3 separate regions of the Homo sapiens genome follow, and regions 2 and 3 are each reported to be linked to region 1. Evidence: microRNA targets listed by miRTarBase, many of them from high-throughput screens and not tested one by one. Region 1 holds a microRNA gene; each other region holds the end of a gene's coding sequence.
Evidence for each region. The annotated mature microRNA hsa-miR-3074-5p reads GUUCCUGCUGAACUGAGCCAG and lies in region 1 at 2,936-2,956, shown strand. An mRNA with a match to its seed (bases 2 to 7 or 8) in the 3' UTR can be bound and repressed. Matches are read on the target gene's strand: a 7mer-m8 pairs with bases 2 to 8, a 7mer-A1 pairs with bases 2 to 7 and ends in A, and an 8mer does both.

Region 2: the mRNA of THSD7A is a reported target of hsa-miR-3074-5p. The part of its 3' UTR that is shown has no 7-base or 8-base seed match.
Region 3: the mRNA of TNRC6C is a reported target of hsa-miR-3074-5p. Seed matches in the 3' UTR shown: 7mer-A1 at 1,872-1,878 and 7mer-A1 at 1,494-1,500.

The regions. Positions count from the first base shown.
Region 1 is chr9:95,084,458-95,089,018 of GRCh38, reverse strand. It overlaps MIR3074 (microRNA 3074), which reads left to right and starts at 2,925; the gene lies at 2,925-3,005. It overlaps AOPEP (aminopeptidase O (putative)), which reads right to left. Exons shown (of 17, transcript NM_001193329.3): 17 at 1,860-2,337. MIR23B (microRNA 23b) reads right to left here and starts at 3,811; the gene lies at 3,715-3,811. It overlaps MIR27B (microRNA 27b), which reads right to left and starts at 3,574; the gene lies at 3,478-3,574. It also overlaps MIR24-1.
Region 2 is chr7:11,372,251-11,376,250 of GRCh38, reverse strand. THSD7A (thrombospondin type 1 domain containing 7A) reads left to right here. Exons shown (of 28, transcript NM_015204.3): 28 at 373-4,000. The coding sequence ends at 457. Among named protein-coding and RNA genes, the nearest start is that of PHF14, 400 kb to the right of the region's middle.
Region 3 is chr17:78,104,318-78,108,317 of GRCh38, reverse strand. It overlaps TNRC6C (trinucleotide repeat containing adaptor 6C), which reads right to left. Exons shown (of 23, transcript NM_001142640.2): 23 at 1-3,833. The coding sequence ends at 3,473. TMC6 (transmembrane channel like 6) reads left to right here. Exons shown (of 20, transcript NM_001127198.5): 20 at 1-921. Among named protein-coding and RNA genes, the nearest start is that of TMC6, 22 kb to the left of the region's middle.

The DNA of each region.
Region 1 (4,561 bases):
CTCCGGCTTCCTCCCTCCCTCACCTCCAGGGGCAGCCCCAGCACGGGCAGGGTGCCCCCAGGTCTGGAGGCAGCAAAGGCCGACTCCTGGCAGGACCTCAGTCAAATCCGTGACAGCAATGTCCGGTTCTGATGAGGTCCACCAAATTTATGCCACCCACTGGCCAGATCCCCGGTGGTCAAAGCAAGTCACAAGACCCGGTGACTCACAGGAGCCAGGGGATTAGTGGTCTTTGTGCAGAACCCCACCTATTCAGCAGTTCAGCTTTGCTTTAGTGGTTTCTAAAGAAGATAAAGCATGGCTTTCACTTTTTGGAAAAGCAAGGTCACCCCAAACCACTGGGCCGGTGAGCCACCCGCAGCTCTTGAGAGCTCCAGGTGCCAAGCATCTGCACACAGTGGGAGTGGGAGCCTCGCAGGGCAGTGCGGCCGGTACTCCCACGGTCCTTCCTGGCTCTGCCTCAGTGAAAGCCAAACACACTTAGAAAGCGCAGAGAGAGAGAGAGAGAGAGGCCGGGTACAGTGGTTCACGCCTATAATCCCGGCACTTTGGGAGGCCGAGGCAGGTGGATCACGTGAGGTCGGGAGTTCGAGACCAGCCTGACCAACGTGGTGAAACCCCATCTCCACTAAAAATACAAAATTAGCTGGGCATGGTGGCGGGAGCCTGTAATCCCAGCTACTCGGGAGGCTGGGGCAGGAGAATCGCTTGAACCCGGGAGGCGGAGGTTGCAGTGTACAGAGATCGTGCCATTGCATTCCAGCCTGCGCAACAAGAGTGAAACTGTCAAAAAAAAGAAAGGAAGGAAAAAAAAAAGGCAGCAGCACACAGAGAGAAAGCATCGTTCATTCTAAATCTCCACAGGAAGCCGCGGTCGTGTATTTATTCAAACATAACAGTCAAGTTCTGAGCCATCCTCCACGATGGCACAGCCAGCTATACAGTCCCACGCAAAGGCATGTGACAGCAGAGAGCAAATCCTAAGAACGTTCTGGAATCAGTCACTGGGACAAGAAAAGAGAGTTCTGGAGACCAAGGCCTCCCAGTCCAGAGCTTCTAATGAGATCCATGGTAGAGCCCCACTTCACCCCAAACAGGCCAGAATTTGTGCTGCCCCCTGGAGCCAGGCAGAGGAGACTGTGGGTGTGTTCAGGTGCACTCATGCTCAGCCCAACTTGGCACAGGGCCCATGGCTGCACCCGTTCCTACAGCCTTCTCCAGGCATTTTCAAACATTCTGCCCCATGGACAGTGCCAAGGAAGCTCAGTGCCCAGCTTCTGTCTATACCCTAAACCTTGTGGAGAAAGAAAAATCATACCACCAGACTCCCACGATGCCTGAATATGCCCAGGCTCTCCATTTTATCGGAAGAGGGTGCCCCACGCGCAGCCAAATTACTTTTGTTTTCAGGCTTCTAAGAGAACTAACACTACCTTGAAAACAACAAAGAAACTAGTGAGGTGGGGGGGGAACACCAGAATGTGGAGAATACCTTTTTCTTGTACGTGCTTTTTTTTTTTTTTTTTTTTTTTTTTTGAGATGGAGTCTTGCTCTGTCGCCCAGGCTGGAGTGCAGTGGCGCAATCTCGGCTCACTGCAACTGCCACCTCCTGGGTTCAAGCGATTCTCCTGCCTCAGTCTCCCGAGTAGCTGGGATTACAGGTGCCCACCACCACGCCCGCCTAATTTTTTGTATTTTAGTAGAGACAGGGTTTCACCATGTTAGCCAGGATGGTCTCGATCTCCTGACCTCGTGATCCACCCACCTCGGCCTCCCAAAGTGCTGGGATTATAGGCATGAGCCACCGCACCTGGCCTTTATTATTTTTAAACAGTATGAAATTTAGAAGCAAACACGTATACAAAAAAAAAATCCATTACATTTATTAATAATATATCTTAGATTCTCATCCTGTTCTTTTAAATGGCGCCCACTGGTCTCATACAGAGGAGCTGTGTGACTTTCTGGAATTATAGAAATATCCGCATCCAGCCATGTGCTGAGCAGACCAATGTAAAATGTTCAGCAGGTTTTCCAATGTCTCTTGGATATATTTAATCATCTCTGCAGAAGAACTCAAAATCTCAGAGCAGCTCCACTCCAGATCCAGGGCAGGAGGCAGCCTCCAGGGAGGGAGGCTGCGTTTACGAGAATCTGCCTTTTGTGTGTGCCTGGCTGGGACCAGCCTCTGGGAAAGAGAAGCACCAAGATGTGAACAGGGCTGTGGGCCGATGGCTTTAGCAGCCACATAATCCCTCCTTTGATGTCCAGGGTCAGTTCGAGCCTGGTCCCCCAGGCTAGGAGGAGACGAATGAAAGAATCTTGCTGTGGTCTTTCCTGCAAAGGAAACAGCAGTAACATTGATTACCCAGTCACCGGGAGGAATTCTTGTGAGCGCGCACCTCTGTGTGCCTTTGCTCTCCACTTTCAAGAGAGGACTTTAATCACAGGACAAGGAGAAGACCCAGGCCCATTTCAGTCTCCGGGACGGGTCACAGCGAGCCGTGTGACGCTGGCCTGCTCACACGTGGCCATGACACCAGCAGGCTGTACTCAGGCTTTGCGTACACAATAGCTGCTAGGAGTACCCATTTCAGACACGCACCCACTCTAACTGTTCTCAGAAAGTCTCAGCTCACCTCGCCGTGGGAGAGCTGGGCCCTGCCTCCCTTACACATGGGGGCAAACGGCCCCCTGCTGGCACTGTGTCCTGCCTTCAGGCCTGGGAGCTCTTAACTTTCTGCCAACAGGGTTTTCCAAGTCTACAAACCCCCACGCCGCAGGAGCACATGCAGATGACTGGCACCGTGCTGCCGCCGGGCCGGGGTGGACGCAGGGTGGACGCGGGCCTGTCTGCCGCGAGTGGGAGCCCCAGCTCTCCTGAGCCTCGGGCACTTACAGACACGAAGGCTTTTTGCTCAAGGGCTCGACTCCTGTTCCTGCTGAACTGAGCCAGTGTGTAAAATGAGAACTGATATCAGCTCAGTAGGCACCGGAGGGCGGGTCCAATCGACAGCCCGGAGAAGCAGCGCCTCAGCTGGGAGCTCCGTGGGCACCGTCTGCTGGCGCAGGAGACGCGAAGGCCTGGACTGCAAATACAAGAGAGAGTTCACCGCGCCCAGAACAACAGGAGCTCCTCCGAAAGCCCCGCCCCGCCCCGCTCACAGCCATGAGCTACCACATGATTTCACACGACTTAGGTGATGCATTTGGTTTTAGTTTTTTGTAAGAAGAATTTTTGCAACTTTCAATACATTTGACCTTTCAGACAGATGTCCGATTAGTGCATGTTTCTGTGGACAGACTTAAGGACTCAGTACATGGCTAGCATTCCCAGCAGGAGACAGTGCATCCTTGGGGTCAAGTGGTCTCTCATCCTCCAGGATCGCGCTCCGCACCCAAGCTGACTGTGCAGCAGCGGCCGGCCCGTCAGCAACGGCCTCTGCCCCAGCGGCTCCAACTTAACTGTCCCCATCTCACCTTCTCTTCAGGTGCAGAACTTAGCCACTGTGAACAAAGCGGAAACCAATCACTGTTCACCAATCAGCTAAGCTCTGCACCTTGTTAGAGAGGTCATCGCTGGGCATAAATAAAGGGACGGTGACCGGTGAGCATCTTCCTCAGCTGGTGGCTTCTTTTGTTTCCAAAGAAGAGCTACGAGATGCACCTGTTCTCCAATCTGCAGTGAGCGCGACCACGGTTTCTGGAGGAGCAGCCAAGGTCGTGGTTGCGTGGTAATCCCTGGCAATGTGATTTTAATCTTAAGTCACAAATCAGCATGCCAGGAACCCAAGCAGCCAGAGCACCTGAGAGCAGCGCCACCCCGTGCTGTCTGCACACACTGGGCTTCCGCGGAAGGACGCCGGCGACACTGCCGCCTTCACGCCTGTTATGCTAGCAAACAGGTGGAGTTTCTGTTTGTTGTTCGTTTAGTTGGCATCCTAGAGGTATAATTTCTTGAATCAAAGGGACTCCAGAGATGACCATAAAAATGCCAGTGCAGCTTTGGAACTGAAGAAAAATGCAGGGACCGGCCATGCGACACACACAATTGCTAAAGGCAGCTGTCCTTGCTATTAGTTTACTGCCTCTAACCCTTGGGGACAAGATCCCTTCTCTCCAGGCAGATTCTAGCTGCCCTGGGAAGGCTTTGGGGACTCTCAAGTCAGGAGGTCCCCCTGCTGGAAGGGGCCCTGGGACAATCCCGGCCACTGTTCCTCACGGGGACTGGTTGGGGGGCAGGCTTGCAACCCCTGGATGCATCTGGAGGGGTGGGGACAGGATCGAAGATGCTGGGGAGGGGGAAAAGGGAGACTTGTGACCAAGATGACTCCTTTGCCTGCCTGGGCAAAAATTCCCCATAAAGAGTGGCGAGGGGTGTGCCCTGTGGTGCTGCTCCAAAACCTGCACCAAAGGGAATGATGAAAGGACTAGCTGGCCTTGTAGTTTCACACACTTTAACACGTACGCCACGAAATAACAAAACGAAAGAGAAACACCATTTACACTGATTACTATTATGAGGCCGGCAGTGAGGTAAGTGCACAGTCTGTGTGCCGCC
Region 2 (4,000 bases), not on the chromosome of region 1:
CCTAATCATATTCAAGTATCTTCTAAAACATGTATAATTTATAAATTATGCATTATTTATAAAGGTTTCTGGCCAAATGAAAATGACCCTACTATGATTTTATTTCTGTTGTTAATACTAAAAGAATCCCACTTGGATAATTTATCTTTTGTAGGGTAGTGAAACACTTGAAGTTTACTTAGAGTTTATTCAAAGCATAAAACTGAAATTCAAGATCAGAAAATCAAATTCTAAGGTAGATAGACTTTAGGCAACGCAGGCAACGAGGCAATTTCAGTTTATCAATTTGCTTTTACTTTTTTTTCGCTTAAAGCAATCAAATTTACAATTAGAAACTGATTTTCTTTCTCCTAATTCCGAATTTTTTTACAGCAAAAAGCCAAAGAAACCCCAAAGAAGGCAAAACAACCGACTGAAACCTTTAACCTTAGCCTATGATGGAGATGCCGACATGTAACATATAACTTTTCCTGGCAACAACCAGTTTCGGCTTTCTGACTTCATAGATGTCCAGAGGCCACAACAAATGTATCCAAACTGTGTGGATTAAAATATATTTTAATTTTTAAAAATGGCATCATAAAGACAAGAGTGAAAATCATACTGCCACTGGAGATATTTAAGACAGTACCACTTATATACAGACCATCAACCGTGAGAATTATAGGAGATTTAGCTGAATACATGCTGCATTCTGAAAGTTTTATGTCATCTTTTCTGAAATCTACCGACTGAAAAACCACTTTCATCTCTAAAAAATAATGGTGGAATTGGCCAGTTAGGATGCCTGATACAAGACCGTCTGCAGTGTTAATCCATAAAACTTCCTAGCATGAAGAGTTTCTACCAAGATCTCCACAATACTATGGTCAAATTAACATGTGTACTCAGTTGAATGACACACATTATGTCAGATTATGTACTTGCTAATAAGCAATTTTAACAATGCATAACAAATAAACTCTAAGCTAAGCAGAAAATCCACTGAATAAATTCAGCATCTTGGTGGTCGATGGTAGATTTTATTGACCTGCATTTCAGAGACAAAGCCTCTTTTTTAAGACTTCTTGTCTCTCTCCAAAGTAAGAATGCTGGACAAGTACTAGTGTCTTAGAAGAACGAGTCCTCAAGTTCAGTATTTTATAGTGGTAATTGTCTGGAAAACTAATTTACTTGTGTTAATACAATACGTTTCTACTTTCCCTGATTTTCAAACTGGTTGCCTGCATCTTTTTTGCTATATGGAAGGCACATTTTTGCACTATATTAGTGCAGCACGATAGGCGCTTAACCAGTATTGCCATAGAAACTGCCTCTTTTCATGTGGGATGAAGACATCTGTGCCAAGAGTGGCATGAAGACATTTGCAAGTTCTTGTATCCTGAAGAGAGTAAAGTTCAGTTTGGATGGCAGCAAGATGAAATCAGCTATTACACCTGCTGTACACACACTTCCTCATCACTGCAGCCATTGTGAAATTGACAACATGGCGGTAATTTAAGTGTTGAAGTCCCTAACCCCTTAACCCTCTAAAAGGTGGATTCCTCTAGTTGGTTTGTAATTGTTCTTTGAAGGCTGTTTATGACTAGATTTTTATATTTGTTATCTTTGTTAAGAAAAAAAAAGAAAAAGGAACTGGATGTCTTTTTAATTTTGAGCAGATGGAGAAAATAAATAATGTATCAATGACCTTTGTAACTAAAGGAAATCAAAATTATATGTTGATTTTTCTTTCTCTCTGATTTCCCAGTTTCAGATTGAATGTCTGTCTTGCAGGCAGTTATTTCAAAATCCATAGTCTTTTGCCTTTCTCACTGGCAAAATTTGAAGCAATCTCTCTCTTCAATGTATGATTTCAAAACTAAAATTTTAAAAGAGAAGAATAAATATCTTATCCAAGACTTCATTGCATATCTAGAGCAAGAGTGGCAAACTTTTTCTGTAAAGGACTATATAGAAAATATTTTCCACAAGGTCTATGTTGCAACTTCTCAACTTTGCCATTCTGCTAATGCAATCTTAGTAAATAAAAGAATGAACATAACTGTTTTCCTATATAACTTCCCTTACAAAAACAGCCAGTAGGCCACCTTTGCAGGTCATATTTTGCTGACCCCTGGTCTGGATGTTTTTTAATGCTAGCTCTCCATGGTGTCATCTTTCGTTTTCATTCATTTTTCAAAGGTGAGAATTTACAGTCATTACATTTCCCACTGTATCAGAAGTAGCTGTATTTTCTACAGATGTAGCCCTGGGAATGGCACAGTGGAACAATATTTAACTAACTCAGCAGACTTCTTGCAAATGAAAAGAAAACTCAAAAGGTGCCATTAAAAAGCAATACCATTTTCAGGCAACATTATTGCAACAACCTTTGTGAGAGAGGACACTAGCTTTTCAGGATATTTGAAAAATAATATAACTAACATGCTATTTTATCTTAAACAGCTGTGTTCCTGTAAAAGTGTTTTGGATTAGAAGGTATTTTTACCTTCATACTGGAGTATGAACTCCCCCTGCTGTTCATTAGAGTATTTGCAAAGATTACAAAAGACATCAGGTTAGGATGTCATTGTCCCCAAAATGAAAATATTTGTATGTATTTCAATAAGAACTAAATGCAGTAAGCGCTAATTCCTCATTCAATATTCACTATATTAGGAAATGTAAATCATTTCAAAGAGAACAGGTAGTCAGGAAGATGAAAATTTTACTTTAAAGCAAGGATTTAAACAAAGAAAACCATAAAAACAAAGTCCATTTTATCTGTTTTATTAAAGAGGAAGAAAAAATAATATTGTTACTTTAAAACTGTGATTGTCAATATATATAATCAGGGGTCTTCCAGATAATCCTAAAGTTGATCTCTTTGAATAAAATAAACTCCATTTGTCCAAAATAGTTAAGAAAGACTCTATTGTGGTTACTTGAAAAATTCAGCTAACCCTCTTATGAAATGTGTGCAACACCTATTAATTTTGAAATGTGGGATAGAATACCTACTAAAGCTATATTTAAGGTATTGTAAAATGTCATTAATTCAGAAAAGATTAGTATCATCCTACCTATAAGAATTAAATTAGCAAATCAAAATTATAGAATGTTATGAAAAATACATTTTATTCATAAATTAATTAGATTTTACAGCATATATGCATGCATATATATATATACACACACACACACACACACCCATATATATGAGAGAGAGGAAATTAGGTTCAACATGACCTAATATTAGAGAACATATTGGAAGGTCACTGTTTGTTAGGATAAATAAATACTGGATAACCTCGTTAGAAAGGTGGAAAGAGGAGAACGTAGCAATCTGGCTATTTTGGACAAAGGGAAGGTTATTATATTCATGTTTATAACATGAAAATGGCCTTATTTTTGTTTCTGACATGAGACAATAATGAGTTAAATATTTTATTGGAATTTCATCAAAACCTTATTTTTACTGTTCCTTCTAAAAATTTGGGAGGGGAATATAGTAGTAACTTCTCTATTGACACTTTTACCTCACCGAGGGGGTAAAAGATGTAGAACTGCTGTTCCCTAGAATGAAGGTCTGTTGTTTGGTTTTTAAAAAAAGAAGAGCAGAAAAAGTTTGACACAGTATTATATGATTTTGCTGGACTATTTCACTAGAAACCACGTAGAATAGGACTAACTGATCTCTTTTGAAAGGGGCTGATTTGCTTATTCATCAATAACTAATCCAATATGTGGACAGTAATCTTAATTTCAAAGCCTTTTTTGAGGATACTACGGTGTAGCTTAAGTGAATTTAAAAAGAGTGCATAAAAGCTTGTTTTTAATTACTTATAACAAAGCACAAATTACTTCTAACAAGGCAAATATTTATTGACATATAAGACATTCTGCTAGGCATTGTAAAAAAAAAAAAAAAAGTAATGGCTTTTGTATACATAGGTACTTAAGACAGACATCCAAAAGAAGGAAAAAATGCTTAATGAGTGAAGATAGCACTGAAACA
Region 3 (4,000 bases), not on the chromosome of region 1:
TCTCAATTTCCAAAAGAGTATGGTCAGAGCCAGCAGCACACCACCTTCCCCATGGGTGGGGGGGGGCCAGCCTGTGGCGGGGGTGCGGGTCCCATCTTTTCGAAGGAATTGACCCACAGTGGGCGGGTCCACCTTTGACCTTGCCCCAGGGAGCGCAGACAGAAAAAAGATCCTTGCTTAGTTTGAGGGGCCGCTGGGGTGCTCGGTTTGTCTTCAGAGGCCTGTCTGTAACACCAATGCCAACCCGGTGGCACTGACTGGTCACCCTGAAGGCCACGGCCAGTGTCCTAGGAAGGGACTCAATTTCTAGCTGTGCCACCTGAGATTCTGGGGTTAGGCTGGTTGTGCTTCTGAAGTTCCACTGTGCTCAAAGTGCTTGGTGAAAGTTAGCGAAGGTGATTTTACAAAAATAGATGCATAAAATGTCTAGGAAACACAAAAAATCCTCATTACTCTTCTCTCCAAATATTTTTTAAGCCCCAACTGGACCCTAGGCAAAAGTGAGTGGCACTCCTCTGCCAGGACTCCAGGCAAGCCCCGGCATCTTCTTGCTGCCGTCCCAGACAACAGAAGTTACCAGATGAACAGACTTGGATGGGCCACGGGGGTGGAGAGCTGGAAAGCTTGGCTGTGCCTCTCGATGATGATTAAGATTTCAATATTTACAGCAAAACCACAAAGCAAATGATAGAATAAAGCAAAACAATGGAAAATCTGAGTTCACTCGTGAGAGAGGTACGTATGTGAGCTCTGAGGAAATTACAGAGGGAACGCATGCAGCGGGACAGCTCTCCCAATCGCAGCGTGCAAAGTAGACATCCATAGTGTCTTTTGAAAAATGAAAAACACATTACTTTGAACAGCCAAGAAAAAAATTGCAATTTATTAAGATTCAATAAAGCGTTGTACTTTCGAAAGCAACTTTCGATGCATGTTCTTCAACAGTCACATTCTATGAGGAAAACATTAAGAGCCACGAACTTGTTGTTTAATCTCAGAGTTACAGACATATTAAGTTCAAAATAAAAGGTAAAAAAAACAAAAAACAAACAAACAAAAAACCCCTCAAACCCAACAAAACCCAAAAACAAACAAACATATTCTTGACTTCCATCCCCAATTTTAAAACAACAGTTTTTCTACAACTCAATGCTCGCCGGCAGCACGGGAAGTGGTATGTCGGACGCACATACGCACACGCATGCTCACACGCACACATATTGGATATACATACGCAGGTGTATGTCCATCGAATATATAGAACGCATGTAATGGCAATGAGATGCAGTCACTCTGAGGAAGGTTGGTTTTTCTAAATATCCTACTAAACTTGAGAAAAAAAGTCTTGAACCCAGTTTGTGCATAGTTCATGATCCTCTATAAAACCAGCTTTTGTGGATCTGCAGTCTTGCAGGACTTTTTTTTTTTTTTTTGTATTTTTTTTGTTTTGATAAAACCATTAAAAAGCTAATTAAAAAAATGTAATGCACAAGTTTCCTGATCAAGCAGGCAGGGAGCACAATGTTCATATATATATTTTTTAAAACATACTTGAAGGTATGTTATTCCATTGTCTTTCTTCCTTGCAAAACAATCAAAACATTGATCATTTTTAAAACATAAAGCAATTTTTAATATATAAAGCACTCTTCAAACATCTATTTCTTTTGAGTCCATTATTTGGTAAATATGTAACTGCTACACATTAGAGATTAGGTATTTTTCTTCTTTGTGTTTTTTTTTCCTCTTTTTCTTTTTTTTCATTTTTTTGTTTTGTTTTGTTTTTTTTTTTTTTAAATAACATCTTCAGTGCTAGGAGTTGGGTTTAAAAATACATGAAATGGTGTGGAGCTGCCCTCGGGAGCCCTGGCTTTCCTGAGAGCGCGTCCGGCATGTGCAAGACAGTGGCCACAACGCCTGTCACCTTGACGAAGGGGCGAAAGCAATCGACAGAGTCCACGACGATGGCCGAGGGAACAACACTGTCCCGTCCCAGAGCTCTGAAGGAACGCATCTGCATTCTGAAAATAGGTTTCTTTACGACGGAAGTCTTTTTTTTTTTTTAATTCCTTTTTAAATTTTTAAAATTTTAAAGTCTGAAGGAGAAAAAAAGGTCTGTAAACAGGTGGGAGCCCAAACCCCAGGCTCCCCCAAAAGCAGTCACAACCCACGCCCAAGTGCTTGTTTCTGTTCCTTCCACGGAACCATCCATTCTTTACAAGTATCTATGGCCACAGTTCAACAACAGTTTTTTTTTTTTTTCTCTTTAACTTTATATTCCAAATGGAAAAATGGTGCAATACTCTGGTAATAATTTTCTTGCATTAGTCCACAATAAAAAGCTGCTAAAGGTAGGTATACATGTTATTTCTCCAGAGATATACACTGTACTTTTTAAACGCAGTCACAGAGTCCTTGAGTAAACATTTACACATGAATTGTCGCCAGCCCTGTCCTAGGAATTCTCTGTAATGTATAGGATTAGCTAAAGGAAGGGCGAGGACACTCAGTGCAAAGTTAGAAGCTAATAATAACAACCGTTTGACCAATGCGCCAAAAAAAAAGCGTATACTGAATACAAGGGAAAACCCACAGTTAAATCCTCACACGCTTTCAAACACACAAACACAGAAAACTGCACGCCGTGCAGGAGCACGCGCCACACATGCACACACACACACACTTCTGTTTCAACACGCACACATACACACACGTAGGCTATGAACTTAGAAATTTTTCCTAGAGCCTGTTTCTGTGTACTGATGTCAACCTGGAAGTGTAGAATTAGAAAGTGTTCACATTTCACTATTGGCCTGCTGGATTCAAGTATTTGCATGTTTGATATGTCTTTTTTTAACTTTTAAAAAATATTTTTTGGGATAAAAAAATGACATGAAAAAGTAATGAAACAAGGGTAATGTGCATAGGCGGATCCAGGGGAACAGAGAGCAGATCGCAGCCCGCGCCTTCCGCTCAGCTCCCGCCGCGGAGCCGCTCTGCGCCCGGCGGTCCACACCAGACTCTGCCCTGATTACCGGCCGCCTCTGGTCATGTGCATAATCGTCACAGGCTCATTTTAAATAGGCTTCACGTCTCCCTCCCTCCCCCACAGATAAAATAACCCTTTCCAGCCCACAATCTGAAAAGTGCCCTTCATGATAGAACTATTCTAAGCAGCTTTTATACTTAAAAAAAAAAAAAAAATCAAAATGACAACACACTATACAAACATAAGACGCACAAAATAAAAAGCTACGAGGAACATCCTGTCATTAGCATGTGACGCTGACCCACCGCAGCCCGCACTGTTTTGCGAACAGTTCGCAAGGACTGCGGCCAAGGTTCGTCTTCAGTCCTGGACAGAGGTACTCAAAAGGGCGGCCGCTGCTGGGTTCCAGCGGGTCTGTGGGGCCGCCCAGCCGGGAGGGGTCCCGGGAGGGGTCGGCTCTCCTGGTGCTGATGATGGCAGAGCCTACAGGGACTCCCCGCTGAGCAGGTCCCCAGGCAGCAGGGTGGTTAGCGGCGTGGGGCTGCCTATCACCCTGCTGTCGTCGGCGCTGGGCGGGCCCCACAGGCTGCTGGAGTACTGGGGCACCCCGCCCCACAGCAGCTCACTGCTCCCCTTGCCACCCAGGCACGGGGCGTTCCAGTGGCCAGCGTCGCTGCGTACCAGGCCATGGGAGCTGCCCGCTGCGCTGAGCCGCGGCTGGCTGGACGCGCTGCTGGACTGCCAGCTGGAAGTGGGTGGCAGCGCCTGGCCTTGGGCTAAGAAGCGATTCACTTCTTCTTCACCAGCGAACTCGGCCAGGATGGTAGTGTTTCCCAGGACGCACCTGCAACAGCAAGATGGGGCACGTGAACAGGGCCACCCCAAGTCCTGCTGAGTTCGTGGCACTGGCTTTCTCTGTATTGGGAACGGCCCCACATGGAAGCCATCCTGTGGCTTCTGTTTTGCCACTGCTATTTCCAAACCCAGACTGTGAATGTTTTGCTCAGTTCA